Linked DNA regions of Homo sapiens: region 2 is linked to region 1. The links come from fine-mapping of genetic effects on gene expression. A gene starts in region 1. The other region holds a variant in brackets. All regions are shown on one strand. Distances are between the middles of the regions.

Region 1 (4,397 bases):
TTATCTGAGGCGGTAACTGAATTCAGCTAAAATAGAGAAGGCAGCTATAGAGAAGCTCAGCGCTTCTCTCAAGAGCCCCTAATCCTGCTGGATTCCAGTCCACTGGGTCATGATGCCCTAAGATTTCAAGAGCTGTGGCTGCAAACTGGAAATTCTCCAAGGGGAAGAGCATTCTTGATTCTTTTTGGACATAAGTGTTGGACACAGGTGGTAGGAAATCATTTCTAACATAGCTTTCTGAGGGGCACTTACACCAAAAGTTGGGCATTTTTTTAACCACATCCAAGAAGTGTGGATTTATTTATTCTATTATATACCTGCCTCAATTCCAGCAGCAGTTTGGTAGAGGTTATCAACTTAGAAATACCGGTTATTAAACTTTCAGAGCAAGGCTTTAACAGCTACAGCCTACATGGCTGTTCATATAAAACCGACGTGCAAATAAGAGGAATTTCTTTTTCTTATTTTATTACCTTGAGCTCCTTGACTGTAGAAGAATCTTTGAGCTGACTCAACATCCAAGAGTCTGTGAGCAGACTCTACATCCAGAAAATAATCCATTTTGGGATAATCCATCCTTGATGTTCCAAACACAGAGTTTTGAGAGAAAACACTGGAACACCTATAAAGAGGAAAAAAAAATCCACAATATTTTAGACGTCAAGTATAAAGTGTATATATAGATGTACTTTAAAATGTTTGAATAAGAATATCCCATTATAATATTCTACTACTTGATTGACATTTGCAATTCTAAAGCCACCCCCCAGCATAGCTTTCCTACCGTGTGAGAAAATGCCGCATTTAGCCAACATTCATTAAAAGTAATATATTCTACTCAGGAAAAACAGATGATCTGATCTAAAGAGAGATAACATACCAGCCTTTCCTTGCTTTATATTCTCTGGAACATATACTGTTAAATTCACATGCTATCAGTTTTCAAAAGGTCTATTTGATAAATAGCGTCATTAAGTGTCAGCCGTTGTGAGTGTTGATCCTCAGCTCATCCTGGGACTTTCGGATTCCCCTGGAGCAGGGAAAATTGCCTGGGAATCCGAGCCTCCACTCATAGATGCCGTGCGTTTATGACACACACTGACATATTTGCTGTACAAATGCTTTGAATTCCTTCCTTTCCGGCGATTCCCTTCAGCACATTTTATAAAGTGCTAGAGGATCGTCACCTGCCTGTGCCTGGCAGGGGCTGATTTTTGAGAAACAATTGTGGTTTGTAGAGCAGCAAGAATGATTGCAGCATTACAGTGATCCCTATATTATCATACACTAGCCTGTCACAAAGCTAATATACTTCCCCAGAAAACATTCAGCCTGTTGGGTTCTTTTTTCAAGCCTATGTAGCCTTTCCCTGATACTCACACAAATGAATTATCTCTATTTCTGCAGAATATTTTTTTGGAAAGAATTAACAAGACAAAGTCATTAAAACCAAGCTTGGAAGTCTAATCCAATTGGTTTCTCTTTCTAACAGTATGTATTTTAATTTAAGAAACCAAGTCCGGTAAGACAAAACTTTTAAAAATACCCAAAGGTACCCCAATAGCAAATATACTTACTGCAAAAAATAAAAATCAAAGGCTATCTGTCAGCGGTAAAACAAGAGCCGTTCCAGCCAGAGTGTCTTTGATCTTGCTAAATATTCCCGGTGAAAGTAAACGATTTTGATTGTTTGATTAGAACAGTGATGAATAATGCATACAGTCCACTGGACTTCCTTTATCAGATAAAATGGCCAGAGCACGTTACCTTAGCAACGGAAGGTGACGCCAGCCTCAGCCTCTGCACCCTCCCCTGCGAAGGGAGAAAATTACCAGTTTCCCGTGTAAAACTTTGGCAGAAAATCATCAAATCCACATGCATACATCATGCAGGGCTATTCCCCAGCCCCCTATCTCTTAGGCAGAGAAGTGCCATAGTCATTAAAAAAAAAACAAAACAGATTTATGTCTTCATTGTTTATTTTCATAATCCCAAATCTTAGTTTGATTTGCAGCTACAAAAGAATAGAATATGAAATGATTAAAAATTTAATATATAGAAAAGTTGTCTAGAAATTTTTGTGGGGGCACCAGTTATTACCCTAATGCTGGCCTAAGAGTGGCAGGGAATGGGGGAGTTTAGGGAAAGGCCATTTTAGCTTAACATACGTTAGACATTCCCCTGTTATAATTAATACACAGAACAGCCACCGGCATCTAGGCTGAAAATAACTCTTCCCTTCTGCAAATCAGTCACTGGAAGAAGCTTAAAAAGCTGTCTGAAATTTCCCAGATTCTGAAAGACATATTATAGCATAGATTTTGTGGGAGATCCCCACTCCCCCCACAACCCCCATCCCCGGCAAAGGAAAATTAGCCAAAAAGATATTTGAAAGGAAGAGTCTGGAAGTTAGCGGATACTCACCGGCACTTGTTGACCCCTTTCAACAGGACACGGTAGAGTACAAAACAAAGCAGTGCGACGCTTCTGAGCCCGCAAGCACAAATGAACAGCTTCTAATTTTCCCTTCAATCTCGCTTCAAGAGCACTGAGCAGAGGGAAGTGATGGATTTGCCCATTTATACTGTGATGAAATGCAACCCTTAAGAAGAGATCTGAGTGGAGCTGCTCTTTAGAACACATTAGACTGCTAATTTAAGAAAATTGAAAGGTTTTGTTTTACTGTCTTTTATGTGTTCTTCTCTGCTACCCCCTCAATTTAATTTGCATTTAAAATTATTCTCATGTCTCCTCAGCTCTCCAAGGTGTGGAGTACTTTCTAATCATGAAGGCTGCTCCAGTAGGGTTTGGTGCAACACCACTTTTATGCTGAGCTGCAAAACAAGGCAGGTAGTCATAATTGTGAGCTGTTTTCTGGAGCGAAATACAGAGGGCACGTTTGATGTCACCCCTTCCCTCTTGCCTGGCTTTCTTCCTTTCCTTGCTTCTGATTGCCTGGTCAAATATCCAGCGCAGATCATGCCAGTCTGCCTAAATGCATTTCTCTCTGTCTGAATGTAACAAAATAATACCAACAACAAAAATAAACTTTGGCTAGTATCTCAAGTTATTCTGGTTTAATATTCTTCCTACCAAACCTCAGTAATGACTTTTAGGCACAGTACTTTGAGATCTTCATGCAGGGCATAGTGATAGCCAAATGCAAGCCCTACTGTGGGTTTTCCACAACCTCTTGCACCCTTTGTTGACCAAGCAGAATTGCTCATTAGTATGGTGTGGTGTACAGTGGGTCAGCTTGTTAAGAAAAGAGCATTTACATTTGATAAGCCTCGGAAGGAAGACCATCAACACCACCCCTGTCCCCCCACTCCCTATACACAGCTCGGCTGGCTGCCCTTGAAACAAACCTGAAAATCCTCTGCTGTTTGTTTTGTGGGGTCTCCCTCTCCCACCCGATCAGAACAGATCAGACACCAAGCCGGTGCTGCAGACAGTTAAGCCTCATGAAAAAGGAAGCTGAAACTACCAATCATATGCCCTTGTAGGAAAGTCAACTATGGACTCTGAATTCTGAAAGCTTTGCTCCAACCCAAGGACTGACTTCTTTAAGGTTACTTTTCTATTCAGCACCCACTGGAGACATGCTGAACACTTGACATTTATAAGAGGAGAAAGCTGTCTTCTGGTTCCTTTTACTTACTGTGAGGTGTGGGCGACAGGTTCTGAACTCGTTATTGTAATTCTACTGAAATTGTAATGACTCATAGATGAGAGAAAGAGAGAGAGAGAGAGTATAAGTCTATGCTGCTGACCAAACCTTTAGGTGAGTGCAAATGAATGTGTGATTGAAGAAAGAGATGCTAAACTGGAAATGTGAAAAATAGAGTTGATTCCCAGGGGGTAGGTGGTGGATTTGGAAGTCAGTCATTTCTGGAGAGTTGACCAAGAAAGAGAAATTTAAAATACTTTACAAAGTGAACAAATAATATGAAAGGGTCGTAATTTAAGAAAACTCAGGAGGGAAAATTTCAACTTAAAGAAATGTATTTGGGGCCGGGCACAGAGGCTCATGTCTGTAATCCCAGCACTATGGGAAGTCAAGGTGGGTGGATCACCTGAGGTTAGGAGTTCAAGACCAGCCTGGCCAACATGGTGAAACCCCATCTCTACTAAAAATATAAAAAATTAGCCAGGCATGGTGTTGGGTACCTGTAATTCCAGCTACTTGGGAGGCTGAACAGGAGAATCGCTTGAACCTGGGAGGTGGAGGTTGCAGTGAGCTGAGATCATGCCATTGCACTCCAGCCTGGGTGACAGAGCAAGACTCTATCTCAAAAAAAAAAAAGAAAGAAACAAAGAAAGAAATGTATTTGGGAAGGGGATGATTATTCATTTGCAAACAGGGACTTACTTTTACTAAATAATTATCACTGTGT
Region 2 (4,397 bases), 480 kb before region 1:
ATTTCCCGATAACCACGCTCCTTCTCTCTTCAGGGCCTTTGCTGTACTCACCTCCTGAAATGCCTTCCTGTTCCTTGATAATAAAAATTGCATTTGCCCCTCAAGCGGCAAATGAAGACCCGCTTTCCTCTGGCAGCCTTTCCTCCCTTAACTCCTACAACCCTGGTGGTCAGCAGCGCCAGTGAATTTGGCTCTGTTTTGTGCTGGTTACTGCTGGCTCCATTTGGGTCAGCCCTGTCTTCCCAGCTAGTTCCTGGATGGCTCCTCCTACATGTGCTGCAGCAGGACTCTGAGGCTGGGCAATGATGGAACGTGCTCACTGCCCTGTGGTCCTCAGGACCAGGACTGGGGGTGCATCAGAATCACAATGATGCTCATTCCTCTTCTCAGGGATTCTAGGTTGGGTTCCAGCATTATATTTCTTTCTTTTTTTAATTTTTTTCTTTTTTTTTTTTTTTGAGACAGAGTTTCGCTCTTGTTGCCCAGGCAAGAGTGCAATGGTGTAACCTCAGCTCACTGCAACCTCCCGCTCCCGGGTTGTTCAAGTGATTTTCCTGCCTCAGCCTCCGAGTAGCTGGGACTACAGGTGTCCGCCATGATGCCTGGCTAATTTTTTTTTTTTTCATTTTTAGTAGAGATGGGGTTTCACCATGTTGGCCAGGCTGGTCTCAAACTCCTGACCTCAGGTGATCCACCCACCCCGGCCTCCCAAAGTGGGTGGCCACCCAGTGCTGGCCACCTGGCCCAGCATTGCATTTGTAAAAAGCCACAGTCAAAAATAACTCTTGGCCTCTTACTTTTGTCCTTTTCTCTGAACAAAAGGGCACTATTTCTTAGAGCAGAGTCCTTGGAACACCTGCAATAGTTGCCTGATGCAACTTCATGTTCCTGGGCTTTACTTTGGACCTGCTGAACCAGAATCTTTGGGCCAGACATTTGGATTTAAGATGCTTCCTGGCCGGGTGTGGTGGCACGTGCCTGTAATCCCAGCACTTTGACCCCGTCTCTACTAAAAATACAAAAATTAGCTGGGCGTGGTGGCACGTGCCTGCAATCCCAGCTACTCGGGAGGCTGAGGCAGGAGAATCGCTTGAACCCAGGAGGTGGAGGTTGCAGTGAGCCGAGATTGTGCCACTACACTCCAGTCTGGGTGACAGAGTGAGACTCCATCTCAAAAAAAAAAGATTCTTCCCAAATGCTCAGCATATACAAGGAGCTGAGAATCACTGGCTCAGGGTGCTAAATCGCTTGGTGTATGGTGCTGCCTGAGGCAGGGATACTGCAGCACTCAAGGCCAGGATGCATCAGTTCCATCCAGCATCTGGACCAATGTCCATCCTGGGGGGTCATTGGGATAATTTCCAGATTCTATTTCTATGCTCCCAACATGTAAAAAGTAAAAGAGCAATTTTCCCTAAACCAATTTATTAAAAGCTAATTTGCCTAAAATCTATTCACCTAATGATTATCTTGTCCACATTAGAATGTGCAATTAAAGGATACTTCTTAAACCAATTTGTCTAATGGCACTTCCAATTGAGTTTTATAAAAATCATTTGTCATTGAGCCTTTTGTAAATGATAAGATGTCTTATATCCTTGTGGGTGAATTTTTCTATTTTATTTCTATCTATAGAAATAAAATCTTTTATTCTATTTCTATCTATATCTTGTCTAAACTTTAAGGATGTTTTAGACAAGTTTGCATAAAGAGCCTTTCTTCAAAATTTTGTGTCAAGCAATAAGTACTTCATCAAACAATTAGCTTTTCCTACATAGTTGATTCAAAGCATTCAGGTTCTTCTGCCTTCTTGCTGATTTTTTATTTACCCTATGTGCACTCTGTAAATTTACTAAACAAACCAAGAAATATATATCTAGTACCCATTTCTGTTTAGTGAGGCGATTACATTTTTATAGTGAGGATGACAAAGGGAATTGGGTAGATCAGGCTTCTACTGCATGGCATCCACTTTTCAAGATGCCAATGTTTTTTTTTTTTTTTTTTTTTTTTTTTTTGAGATGGACTCTCACTTTGTCGCCCAGGCTGGAGTGCAGTGGTGTGATCTTGGCTCACTGCAACCTCCACCTCCCAGGTTCAAGCAATTCTGCTTTAGCCTCCCAAGTAGCTGGGATTATAGGTGCACGCCACCAAGCCCAGCTAATTTTTTGTATTTTTAGTAGAGATGGGGTTTCACCATGCTGGCCAAGCTGGTCTCAAACTCCTGACCTCGTGATCCACCTGCCTTGGCCTCCCAAAGTGCTGGGATTACAGGTGTGAGCCACTGCTCCCAGCAGCTAACTTCTTAAAGTAGTGTTTCCATCAGCCTCATTAGGGAAGCTTGGGAGAGGCAGATTCCCGGGCCTCACCTTCAGAGTTCAGATTCAATAAGTCCACAGTGGTGCCCAGGAATCTGCTTTGTAAACAAACTCCCAGATCACTCTGATCTACCTGGATGGAAATGACACCTGGTGCTGCAAGTTCTCATC[A/G]GGCAAAGAGGCACAAAATCATTACCAACATTTGTTGGTCTAAAAAGTATAAGATAAACTATAAAATCATGCACTGATTCAGTTCTGTTGGCTTCAGCAAATTGCTTAATCTCTTTGATGTTCAGTTTTCCAATCTGTGAAATAATGTGTTATGGCAAGGTTGTCCAACCGGCGGCCTGCATGCGACCCAGGACAGCTTTGAATGTGGCCCGACACAAAATGGTAAACTTTCTTAAAACATGACGGGATTTATGCACGGATCTTTTTCTTTTCTTTCGTTTTTTTTTTTTCACTCATCAGGTATCATTAGTATTTGTATATTTTATGTGTAGCCCAAGACAATTCTTCTTCTTCCAATGTGGGCCAGGGAAGCCAAAAGGTTGGACACCCCTGTGTTATAGGACAATTGTAAAATTAAATAAAGTACATAAACCGTGTGGCATAGCGTCTGACACTCCAGACACTCCAGACAGTTATTCCACAGAGAGTAACCATAATTCTTGATGCTATCACCATCCTCATTATTAATTGCCTCCTTTAGGAAGCCCATCATCCCGAGGCTGGCTGAGGCGCCTGCCCATGGGACCCCCAAGGCCTCGTGCTTCCCTGTGTCACAGCATTGCCTATTGAGTCAATTCAATCCCTTTCATTTTTCTTAACATGTTGCTGATTTTTCCTTGCAAGGGCTATGTGTGATGTAGTAATTATTAAATTTCACTGAGCGTGGCTATTTCCTCCTGTTTTACCTGCTAGAATGAACTAAGCCTAGTGCATAGTAGATACCCAATAAACGTTTGTTTATCTTTTCATCATGTCTTCAGGGCAACGGGAAAAGGTGGAACTCAGTGACTGGTTTCTGCTGTATTAAAGGTCTGCGAGTCAAAGTGTGGCCAATGGACTAGCAGGAGCCACATGGCCTGGGACCTTATCAGAAAGGCAGATGCTCAGGGCCCACCCCAGACCCTCTGGCAAGATCTCTAGGGGACGCTGATCTATCAAGTCTGAGAAGCACCCCTGAAAGAGGCATTCCTTTCCAAAGAGGCTACTCCCTCCATAGGCAAAATAACAAATGCCCAGAGCCTTGTGGAGGAGGAGATTATCCCAGCACTGCTCTGGGAGGGCTGGGAAGGAGGTGCAGAGGCTTCTGCTGTGGGCCGAGGGCAGAATGTCCTGGTGAAACCACCACTGGCTTAGAACTCAGAAGAATGATTCTAGATCCTTGAGGGATAGCATTAGGAGACATACCTAATGTAAATGACCAGTTAATGGGTGCAGCACACCAACATGGCACATGTATACATATGTAACAAACCTGCACATTGTGCACATGTACCCTAGAACTTAAGGTATAATAATAATAATAAAAAAAAAAGGAACTCAGAAGAGCTGGGGTTTAAGTACAGCTCCAAGACCAAGAAACTTTGTTACTCTTCCTAAGACATTTAGCTTTCCTGAGCCTCAGTTTTCTCATCTGTAGAAAGGGAGTATTGCCCAGAGTATAGATCTGTAATGAGAAGTAAATAGATTAATAACTACACAGCTCCATGCAAGGTGCTGAGGGGACCTTAGGGTTGAAATCTAGCCTGAGGCCTGCCCTGGTGTGGGGCTGATTCACTCTAGAGGAAGGGGCATCCTCTACAGGGCACTTTTTCTAATTTTACAAAGTCTCCATATAGGTCAGCAGAAGGCCTGAGTATAAAGTAGCCCCCGTACAGTCCTTGATGCATCAGAGGAGATCAGCAAATGTAGTCTTGATTCTGAGACAAACATCATAATACATTCCCCACCTCTGCCATAGGTTGTTTGGAGGGTCAGACAGGATCACGTGAACGTGCTTTGTAAATTGCAAAGTACCTTATATAGCTGCAGTGTTGCTAATAGGGCTTTCACCACACTTCTGAAAATCCA

What was found. PIP is the estimated chance that this variant, and not a neighbour inherited with it, causes the effect.
Region 2: its variant is the best candidate, but not a certain one, in a credible set for the expression of PHACTR1 in whole blood (TOPMed, PIP 0.59).

Annotation. Positions count from the first base shown.
Region 1 is chr6:12,714,924-12,719,320 of GRCh38, reverse strand. PHACTR1 (phosphatase and actin regulator 1) reads right to left here and starts at 2,554. Exons shown (of 15, transcript NM_030948.6): 1 at 2,425-2,554; 2 at 1,578-1,812; 3 at 474-622. The coding sequence starts at 576. All of the region lies in intron 1 of LOC107984015 (a long non-coding RNA gene), which reads left to right.
Region 2 is chr6:13,197,005-13,201,401 of GRCh38, reverse strand. The region is part of intron 7 of PHACTR1 (phosphatase and actin regulator 1); the gene reads right to left. Among named protein-coding and RNA genes, the nearest start is that of TBC1D7, 130 kb to the left of the region's middle. The variant A/G (reference allele first, on the strand shown) is at 2,490.